Linked DNA regions of Homo sapiens: region 2 is linked to region 1. A link means that fine-mapping ties the variant in region 1 to the plasma level of a protein whose gene starts in the linked region. Region 1 holds a variant in brackets. A gene starts in the other region. All regions are shown on their forward strands.

Region 1 (5,369 bases):
CGCTCTGTCACCCAGGCTGGAGTGCAGTGGTATGATCTCGGCTCACTGTAAACTCTACCTCCAGAGTACAAGCAATTCTCCTACTTCAGTCTTCTGAGTAGCTGGGATTACAGGCGTGCACCACCACGCCCAGCTAATTTTGTATTTTTAGTAGTGATGGGGTTTCACATGTTGGCCAGGCTGGTCTCGAACTCCTGACCTCAAGTGATCTGTCCGCCTCAGCCTCCCAAAGTGCTGGGATTACAGGCTCGAGCCACCACGCCCAGCATTTTGTCTCAGTTTAAATGGCGTTTTTTCAGAGAGGCCTTCCCTGCCTGCCTATCTATTAATCGCTCTCAATCATATCAGCCTGGTTTATTTTCTTTATAGATTTTATTACTATTGAATATTTTCTTTCTTGTTTGTTGTCTGTCCCCGTGAGAGCTGGAATTTTGTTCAACACTGTGTCCTTAGTGCCTAGAACCATGCCTGGCACACAGTAGGTACTGACTAAATATTTACTGAGTGATTGAACTGGTTTGGAGTCCTTGAATGTCCCTGGGCAGCAGGCGATCCCTATGCCAACCCAGATCCTTTATCTCCTCCTGTACCATGTTAGCCTCAGTTCAATTGACCCTAAACACAGCTCTGACCGGCCGGGTACAGTGGTTCATGCCTGTAATCCCAGCACTTTGGGAGGCTGAGGCAGGTGGATCACCTGAGTTCAGGAGTTCCAGACCAGCTTGACCAAAACAGTGAAACCCCATCTCTACTAAAATTACAAAATTAGCCGGGTGTGGAAGCAGGTGCCTATAATCCCAGCTACTTGGGAGGCTGAGGCAGGAGAATCGCTTGAACCCAGGAGGTGGAGGTTGCAGTGAGCTGAGATCGCACCATTGCACTCCAGCCTGGGCAACAAGAGTGAAACTCTGTCTCTAAATAAATAAATAAATACAGCCTTGACCTGGGCTGGTGGAGGAGAAGGTGCAGTCACTGGCCCTGAATCCAGGGCCTTCCCCACTCAGCCTGTCCCTCTTTAATACATTGATTTCCCTTTTCCTCTAAAACATATGGTGCACACAACCCTCAAACGTTAAGAGTGATGTCAGCAGATGTGCAGCGTGGGATGGGCTCTGGCAGCCTCCTCGAGTGCTCATCACCGGGCTTGAGACATGGAGAGAGCCAAATCCCCAAATCCCTTCCCACTTTCACTCCTGGTTTTGTTGTTGTTTGTCTTTTGAGGCAGAGTCTGGCTCTGCCTATTAAGCTGGAGTGCGGAGGCACAATCTTGGCTCACTGCAGTCTTGACCTCCTGGGCTCAAGCAATCCTCCCACCTCAGCCTCCTGAGTAGCTGGGACTATAGGCATGCACCACCACGGCTGATTAATGTTTGTAATTTTTTTTTTTTGTAGAGATGAGGTCTCACTGTGTTACTCAGGCTGGTCTCCATCTCCTGGCCTCAAGGAATCCTCCCACCTCGGCCTCTGAAAGTGCTGGGATTACAGGCATGAGCCACTGCGCCCGGCCTCATCCCTGGCTTTGAAGAGAGAAGGAGAGGCTTCCCAGCACTCAGAGGGACAGGAAGGAAGTGCCTTTCCAGCCTCAGTTGTGTACCCAGCACAGCAATACTGGTAAGAAATCAAGATAGCAAAGTCCTGCTTCTGCCTTTTTCTAGAACAGATGTCAGCAAGCTGTTCCTGTAAAGGAATCAGGATAGCAAAGTCCTGCTTCTGCCTTTTTCTAGAACAAATGTCAGCAAGCTGTTCCTGAAAAGGCCAAAGTGTACATATTTTAGGCTTTCCACACCCTGTGGTCTCTATCGCAGCTGCTCAGCCCTACACTTTAGCATGAAAGCAGCCATAAACAATATCTAACGAACAGGCTGGGAGCTGGAGTTAGCACACAGGCCATAGTTTACCAACCCCTGTTCCAGAGGAAATGAAAAATCTCTTTCTGGGCTAGGCATGGTGGCTCATGCCTATAATCTCAGTACTTTGGGAGGCTGAGGCAGGAGGATTGCTTAAGCCCAGGAGCTCGAGGCTGTAGTGAGCTATGATTGTGCCACTGAACTCCAGTCTGGGTGACACAGCAAGATCCTGTCTCTAAAAAAAAAAAACACTTTTTGAACCTCAGTTTCCACATCTGTAAAATGGGATGATCTAGTACTTACCTACCTCCCTGGGTGGCAGTGAGGATTTAAAGTGATAAAGTATACAAAGTGTGGAACCTAGTACTTGGTGGCGGGGTGGGGCGCTCTCACTTTGTTGCCCAGGCTGGTCTAGAATTCCTGGGCTCGAGCGATCCTCTCGCCTTGGCCTTTCAAAGTTCTGGGATTACAGGCATGAGTCACTGTGCCTGGCCTGATTATTAGTATTAATAGTTGTCATAGTTGCTTAACAAACAGAAAGTGCTTTTTTGAGACAGGGTCTCACTCTGTTACCCAGGCTGGAAGGCAGTGGCACGATCATGGCTCACTGCAGCCTCATCCTCCCTGGGCTCAGGTAATCCTCCCATCTCAGCCTCCCGAGTAGCTGGAACTATAGG[C/T]ATGTACCACCATGCTCAGCTAACTTTTAAAATTTTTTTGTAGAGATAGAATCTCACTGTGTAGACCAAGCTGATCTCAAACTCCTGGCCTCAAGCGATCTGCCTGCCTCGGCCTCCCTAAGTGTTGGGATTACACGCGTGAACCACCACACTTGGCCAGAAAGTGCTTCCACATATTAACTCACTTACACTTCATAACATCCTACAAGATAGGTATCCTCACCCCCAGTTTACAGATAAGGAAACTGAGGCCCAGCAGTTATAAGCTCAAGTCAGTCTGGCCCCAGAGCCTATGCTTGTAACTAGGTTTCTCTCTCTGTCTCTCTCTTTTTCATTATCCCATGTAACTCTCACAGCAGTGCCTTGAGATAGCTATTATTGGCCCTGTTTTGCAGATTTGGAAACTGAGGTTCAGTACGAGGAAATAACTGGTCCAAGGAAGTAAACACGGGCTCCACTGACCACAGGAGGCCAAGCTGGATTGCTGCCCAACATGTCAACATGCACTGCTCTGGCCCCCTCCTCCCTCGCTGTGCCTCCAGCTGTGTTTTCTTTGGATCTCTGCATGGCTTGGAGAAGCTGCGTCAGCCCATCTCCTCTCCTGCCCAGTCCCCACCCCCAACGCCCACCCCAGCTACCCCTCAGGGAGTGACCCCCTTCTCCTCACTCTGCCTGAGCATATGAGCACTGCAGCTCATGCGCCTGTGTTGGTCAGCATGGGTGCACCTGGGGACATGTGACAGGGGACCCAGCTGGAATGAGAGGAGGATTATCTGAGGAGGACAAATCTCAGGCCAGGAAGACCCCGATTACATCTCTCCAGACAGGCGAAATGATCATCTGTTTCCAGAATGCAACTGGACAAAACAGTCCGCGTGAGGGCTGGACATTTACCAAATGGGTAAAAGGAATCTAAAAGGGCTGGGGCTTGCTGAGTTCAGCCAGGCCAAAGCTGTGGACTGACTTTCCGTGATTTCTAAAGCTGGGAGATCTGTTGTTTTCTTCTTTCTTTCCCATTTCCTCCTTGAAGGCCAGTCCATTTTCTGTGTGAAGAACAGGCCACTTGGTGTCTGAAGTCACCTCCAGATTAGAAACTCAAGGATTCTAAGGTTCCTTATGAGGTGTTGCTTTCCCTGGGTCCTCGGTCCTAGGGCATTGTATCCCCACACCTGGTGCCTCTCCATCAGGGCTCGGATGTCAGCCTTGGGCAGCTCACTCTCTCTCTGACTTCCCTTTTCTTTTCTTCTTCATATCCCACCCTTCTTCCCAGTTTCTATGCCTCTGTCAGTCTGCTAGCTGACTCTGACTCATGGGGACCTCTTTCTGTGGTCCTCTAAGCCTCCTAACCGTCTGTGCTTTCCTTATACTCCACGTGGGCTTTCCAGCCTCTACTTGTTTTGAGGAAGAGGTGGAGGATCCATAGCAGCTCTGTCTAGATGTTTGGATTTCATAAGCCAGTCACAACATTTCAAAGTAAGTGAAGGGAGGGGGCCCCAAAGGAAGGGATTTTTTCCTTTGATAATAAGGATAGGCCACCATCTTCAGCCTAAGCTTGTCCCTTTTCTGCAGGGCTTGCTGAAATGTTGCAAGAAGTGGTCAACATAATGCAACTCGAATTTTTCCAGGTGTCCTAATACTGCAGGAGTCCCCCGCATAACCCAGGCTTTGGTCTAACAAGATTGCCAACCCCTAGCCAGGAATCATGAGGATGTCACCGCCCTCTGGCCTTCTTCCTCTCTTCCACCCAGCTAGATCCATATTTTAGCTCCCCCCCAACCCTAGCAAGTACCAAATCCTGCTCCTTTTCCAAGCTTCCCCATCACAGGTCATGGCACCAGCTTTATGCAGTGCTCAAGTCAAAAATATAGGAGTCATCCTTGACTTCCTTTTTTTGTTATACCCCACATCAGCAAATCCCGGTGTCTCTAACTCCAAAAGACGCCTCACCTTATGCCTGTAATCAAAGCACTTTGGGAGGCTGAGGTGGGAGGATCACTTGAGCCCAGGGGTTCAAGACCAGCCTGAGCAACATAGTGAGACTTTGTCTCTACAAAAAATAATTAGCCAGGTGTGGTAGCATGCGCCAATAGTCCCAACTACTTGGGAGGCTGAGGTGGGAAGATCGCTTGAGTCCAGGAGGTCAAGGCTGCAGTGAGCTGTGATTGCGCCACTGCATTCCCGCCTGGGCAACAGAGCGAGACTCTGCCTCGAAAAAAAAAAAAGATGCCCCACATCTATACAATTCTCTCTATCAGCACCAACACCACTTCAAGCCATTTTCATTGGTTACCGGGACAACCTGCCTTATCTCCCTGTCTCACCATTTCTCCTGTAGGTCTAGCCTCTCTACATCAATCTAAGTGATATTTTTAAAAATGGGAATCATAGAATTTTTCTATCCTGCTCAACATCCTCCCCATCACACACAAAATAAAACCCAGACTCTGGCCACGACCTCTGGAAACACTGCAGGTGAACTAGCTCCTGCCTACCTTCCTCTCCAAGCCCATCTTCTACCACTGTTGGGAACACACCAAGTGCCTTCAGCCTCAGACTTTCCTTAATTCTTTTCTCCACCAGACACATCATCCCACACACATACCCATGCAGAGTTACTCAGATCCCTACTCAAATGTCACCCCCACAGAAGAGGCCCCCTCTGTGTCATTACCTGTCATTCTGTTTGTTTAATTCTTTATTGCCTGTTTCTTCCAGTAGACTGCAAGCTCCCCAGGGCGGGGACAGGAGCCTGCCACTCTTATTCATGGCCATATGTCCAGTGCCCAGCACAGGGTCTGGCACACAGAAAATGCTCAATAGATGTTTGTTGAATTCAAGATGGCCG
Region 2 (5,369 bases), not on the chromosome of region 1:
CTCACTTACCCTGGCTCATGCTAACCCTCAGGCCATCCAAATCAGGGCCATGACCCCTCCCCAACCCAGACACCAGGAAGGAGGAGGAGGGAGAGAGAGGGAAGGGCCCTCCCCGCAGAATCCAGGCTCTTACATCAGATTCTTGCCCTGGACAGGATATCCTGTATTTACCAGGCGGAAAGTGTATGGAGGGGAGGTGAGGTGGGTGGCCTTCAGCAGTAACATGAACTACAACTACCTCCCGAAAATATTCCTCTTAGACGCCTGCTCAAGAGTGGGATCATTTAGAAGTCAGTTTGAGGGTGGGGCCAGAGCTGAATTCAGAGGAAAGCCTTAAGGAGAAGCTGTTTGCATACAGGATGAATCCAACAAACCTGGCTCCAGAATTGGGCTGGCAGGTCTGCAAGAGGCTGCATCTGTGGGGCCTCTCATTGAGGGGTCTGATTTAAAAAGGAAACTCCTGGCCAAGCGCAGTGGCTTATGTCTGTAACCCCAGCACTTAGGGAGGCCGAGGTGGGCAGATCACCTGAGGTCGGGAGTTCGAGACCAGACTGACCGACATGGAGAAACCCATCTCTACTAAAATACAAAATTAGCCAGGCATGGTGGCGCATGCCTGTAATCCCAGCTACTCGAGAGGCTGAGGCAGGAGAATCGCTTGAACCCGGGAGGCAGAGGTTGCGGTGAGCCGAGATCGCGCCATTGCACTCCAGCCTGGGCAACAAGAGCGAAACTCCGTCTAAAAAAAAAAAAAAAAAAAAAGAAAAAGAAAAAAAAAAGAAACCTCTAAACAAATGGCGTGCTGAGGCCTCATCCCAGGTCTCTCAAAAAGCTGATCATTTTGAGCTCTCTGGTGTCCAGGGTTGTGGCCAAGATTAATGATAAATGAGAAGGAGAAACAGGCCTGCAGACTTGGCCAACCAGTTCAAGGCGCCGCACCTCTCCGTTCCAGTCCAAACCCCTGGCACTGGGGTTTCTGAAGTGGGGGTCCTCTGCAGGAGGAAGGCAGAGGTGGGTCCCCCCTTCCACTCCCCGCCCCAGGCATTCCCAAGGGCAGCCCCGGGTCGTGGCCCGAAGGCTGAGGGCTGAGTCACAGGAGGAGGAGATACTGCAGTCACGGGAGACACAGAGCCCAAGACAAAGATCGGATGACCCAATCCCGCCTCCCCCACCCCAAAATCAGATCGGCGGTGTAAGGCTGGTGGCGGTGGGGTAGCAAAGGCTCTCTCTCCTCCGTGATGGGCGTGTCTCGTCTCTTTGGCCTTGCTTTGGGAGGGGCCGCCTCACACCCCCACAGACCACGGGGCTGCATGTGACCAGGACTCTGGCACGGCCGCTGTGCCCCCGCCCAACCCCGACGACATAGCCCCTCAAGCTCCCTCGGGGAAAGGGGGCACTAACCGTCACTCATAGTCACAGACCACAATTACCCAGAGAGTGTTTGGTGGGTAGGGGTACAGGTGTGGTTTTAATGGGGGGGGGGGGGGGGGGTGGGGACGGTAGTGTGGTTGTGCGCATGCGCATGGGCACCTTATTGTTTTCCCCCCCACCAGCACAGCTTCTGGGCGGCGGCCACAACTAAAAATGGTTGGGGAAGGGGCGATAATTTCGTCTCCCCTCCCCACATAAATGCCGCTCTCCAGGAGCCCCCAAACACAAGTTCCTTGGCTACGCTTTCCACGCTCGTGCACCCAGGTCCGCGCCAGTTTCTCCCGCCCTGCCACACCCCCGGCGCTCGCCCACTCGTGCCCCACTGCCCAGTGGCCTGCGCAGCCCTGCCCTGCCCTACGCAACCCGCTCACCTTGCGGTCGCTGACTCCCTCGCCCACTGCGATCACAACACCCGCGCCCTCCATGCCCGGAGTGACAGGCAGAGGCGGGAGACGGTCGTACAGCCCCTGCCTAGCCATGAGGTCTGCGAAGTTGAGCCCGCAGGCCCGCAGACGCAGCGTCAGCTGGCCGGGCCCAGGGGCCGGGGGCGCTGCCGGCCGGCTCTGCAGCTTCACCTTGTCGTAGCCTCCAAAGCCGGTGAGCACTAGGCAGCGCAGCAGTGGCGGCGAGGCGGCGGCGGCGGCGGCCCCTTCGGAGGCCGCGGGATGCTGGGGGTCGCTCGCTGCCTCGGTTTTCGGAGGCGGCGAAGAGGCGTCTTCCCCGGTCGCTGCCTCGGCTACCTCTCTCTCGTCGGACATGGCTGGGACTCCCGACGAGAGCGCACAGCTGGATGGAGAGTGCACAGCTGGGGAAGGCGGAACGCGTCGGGAAGAGCCGCGGCTGCGGGATCCAGCGGGAGGGGCGGGGCGCCGGGCGAGGCGGGGCCTCGCGCTCAGCCTTAAAGGGCCAGGGCCATAGTGGCGCAAGCTGGGAGAGCACGAAAAGGGGCACCAGGAACGTCTGTGCTCTTGGGATCAAGCCGACTGTGATTTATTTATTCATAGTAAACCTTATTCAAATTAAAAACTATTTTAAGGGATAGGCCTGGCGCGGTGGCTCACGCCTGTAATCCCAGCACTTTGGGAGGCCGAGGCTGGTGGATCATTTGAGGTCAGGAGTTCAAGACCAGCCTGGCCAACATGGTGAAACCCCCGTCTTTACTAAAAATAAAAAAGTTAGCCGGGCGGTAGTGGCGCGCGCCTGTAATCTCAGCTACTTGGGAGGCTGAGGCAGAGGAATCGCTTGAGCCTGGGAGGCGGAGGTGAGCCGAGATCGCGCCACTACACTCCAGTCTGGGCAACAGAGTGAGACCCTGTTAAAAAAAAAAAAAAAAAGGGCCGGGCGGCGTGGCTCACGCCTGTAATCCCAACACTTTGGGAGGCCGAGGCGGGTGGGTGGATCACCTGAGGTCAGGAATTCGAGACCAGCCTGACCAGTATGGTGAAACCCCAGCTCTACTAAAACTACAAAAATTAGCCAGGCATGGTGGCAGGTGCCTATAGTCCCAGCTACTAGGGAGGCGGAGGCTGGAGAATTGCTTGAACCCAGGAGGCGGAGGTTGCAGTTAGCCAAGATCATGCCGCTGCACTCCAGCCTGGGCTACAGAGGGAGACTCCATCTCGAAAAAAAAAAAGGCCGGGCGCGGTGTCTCACGCCTGTAATCCCAGCACTTTGGGAGGCCGAGGCGGGCAGATTACGAGGTCAGGAGATTCACCTGGCTAACACGGTGAAACCCCGTCTCTACTAAAAAATACAAAAAATTAGCCAGGCGTGGTGGCAGGCGCCTGTAGTCCCAGCTACCTGGGAGGCTGAGGCAGGAGAATGGCATGAACCCAGGAGGCAGAGCTTGCAGTGAGTCGAGATCGCGCCACTGCACTCCAGCCTGGGCTACAGAGCGAGACTCCGTCTCAAAAAAAAAAAAAAAAAGTTAAGGAACAGTCCCAAAACTTGAACTTACATCAGATTTGGAGTTAACTCATATCAGATTTGGAGTCAGCCACCTGTGGACTGGAGTCCAACTACATTGTGTCTCAGGCTCTGACATCTAACCCAGGCAGGGATGAGACTTAATTCACTGTGGTCTTGCAGTGGCAAAGTAGAAGCATGGAGACCAAGCCTTTAAAACTTTCTGACTTTGGTGTTAACGTTCTGTTCCTCATTTTCCCTTCTGTAACATAGTGATGATGCTGCGTGCTCTAGTTATATTTATATTTTTATTTTTTTGATACAGGGTCTCACTCTGTCACCCAGGCTGAGCGAGGTGGGGCGATCACAGCTCCCTACAGCCTCAAACTCCCGGCTTCAAGCAATCCTCCCACCTCAGCCTCCTGAATAGCTGGGACCACAGGCATGTGTCACCACGCCCGGCTAACTTTATGTTTTACTGCTCTTTGCAGAGCAGGGCTACCCCATAGGCAGCGTGCCTAGAGTGGCCAAACCTAGCTAAGTTTTGATTTTTTTTTCTAGAGAGAGGGTCTCGCTAATGTTGCCCAGGATGGCCTCAAACTCCTGCACGCAAGCAAGCCTTGGCCTCCCAAAGTGCTGAGTTTACAGGCGTGAGCCACCGCGCCCAGCTTCTAGTTATCTTTACAGAATTATTTGCAGCATATATTATTGACTCGAATTGCCTCGATATAAAAAAGCACTTTTTTTTTTTCGAAACTCTATTGCACAAGCTGGAGTGCAGTGAGGCAATCTCGGCTCACTGCAAGCTCCGCCTCCCGGGTTCACGCCATTCTCCTGCCTCAGCCTCCTGAGTAGCTGGGATTACAGGCGCCCACCGTGCGGGTTTCACCGTGTTAGCCAGGATGATAGTCTCGATCTCCTGACCTCTTGATCCGCCCGCCTCGGCCTCCCAAAGTGCTGGTATTACAGGCGTGAGCCACCGCGCCCGGCCTATTGTCAGACTCTTAATCAAGCCTGACTTTTGGGTTTAGCTCTGGCTCCAGCAGAGCAACTCTGGCGGTTGGTTCTTTCTCTTCCTTATCTCCTTGTCCCCAAGCATCCACCAGAGGACGCAGCTCCCCCAAAACTTTCCACCCAGTGCTTGGCTGGAGGAACTCAGTCCACGCTTCTCTGCTAGTCTAGGCCGGCGGTTAAGTCAATGTAACCGGAGACCCGGCTGCCCGTTGCCATGGGGACGGAAAGCTATGATGTCACCACCGTCCGGGTGGGTGTGCTGGGGTTCACCCTCCCATTTCCCCAAGACCCCCTGCCAGGACATAGGCGGACGCGGGAGAGAAAACCAAAGAGGCTCCCTCCTTCCCCTTAGCATCTCTCTCCCGCCGTGTTCAGGAAGTGGATGGCTGCCCCAGCTCTTGTCCGCACTGGTACACCTGCGTGCACGCGTGGGTACACAGCAGGCCCGAGCTTCGCGCTTGTGCCGCTCATATTCTACCCCTAAGAACTTCGCTTGAACTCTGACCTGCCCTTATATCCGAGAAAGTCAAATAAGCCCAGTTCGGCCTGTCCCAAACCGGCAGGGGCCCCTCAGACCACACCGGCGGGCTGGACCCCGGCTCTGAGGCCTCTGTTCCCAGGGCTCCGCCCAGATCTTCTGGGCCCCGCCCCCCGGCTGCGGGGGTGGGAGGAGGGGCCGGGGGGGCGCGGCCGCCTGGCTGGGGGCGGGGCGGAGGGGGGGCCGCGGACCCGGGGCGGGGGCTCGGCGCGGGCCCGCGAGATGCCGGTGTTGGCGGCCCGAGCGGCTGCAGTTGCAGGGGCGGGGGAGGCGGCGGCGGGGCCCGGGAGAGGGGTGGCGTGGGGGACCGGCGCGTAGCCGGGACCATGGAGGGGCAGAGCGGCCGCTGCAAGATCGTGGTGGTGGGAGACGCAGAGTGCGGCAAGACGGCGCTGCTGCAGGTGTTCGCCAAGGACGCCTATCCCGGGGTGAGGGACCTGCGTCTTGGGAGGGGGACGCTAAGGCTGCTGGGGGGTGGGTG

Direction of the effects. Alleles are on the strand shown, and positions count from the first base shown. The strength of an association depends on the size of the effect and on how common the allele is.
For the plasma level of the protein whose gene starts at base 2,252 in region 2, allele C in region 1 goes with a higher level than allele T (moderate association).

The links. PIP is the posterior inclusion probability: the model's chance that the variant is causal. The UK Biobank Pharma Proteomics Project read protein levels with antibody pairs (Olink). The fine-mapping took linkage between variants from a reference panel, not from the people measured, so its PIPs are less certain.
Region 2: VAT1 starts here. The variant in region 1 is fine-mapped to the plasma level of the VAT1 protein (UK Biobank, PIP above 0.99).

What each region holds. Positions count from the first base shown.
Region 1 is chr20:45,916,807-45,922,175 of GRCh38, forward strand. No RefSeq gene overlaps it. Among named protein-coding and RNA genes, the nearest start is that of PLTP, 7.3 kb to the left of the region's middle. The variant C/T (reference allele first, on the strand shown) is at 2,525.
Region 2 is chr17:43,020,134-43,025,502 of GRCh38, forward strand. It overlaps VAT1 (vesicle amine transport 1), which reads right to left and starts at 2,252. Exons shown (of 6, transcript NM_006373.4): 1 at 1,803-2,252. The coding sequence starts at 2,189. RND2 (Rho family GTPase 2) reads left to right here and starts at 5,098. Exons shown (of 5, transcript NM_005440.5): 1 at 5,098-5,316. The coding sequence starts at 5,215. RefSeq lists a silencer at 4,922-5,061.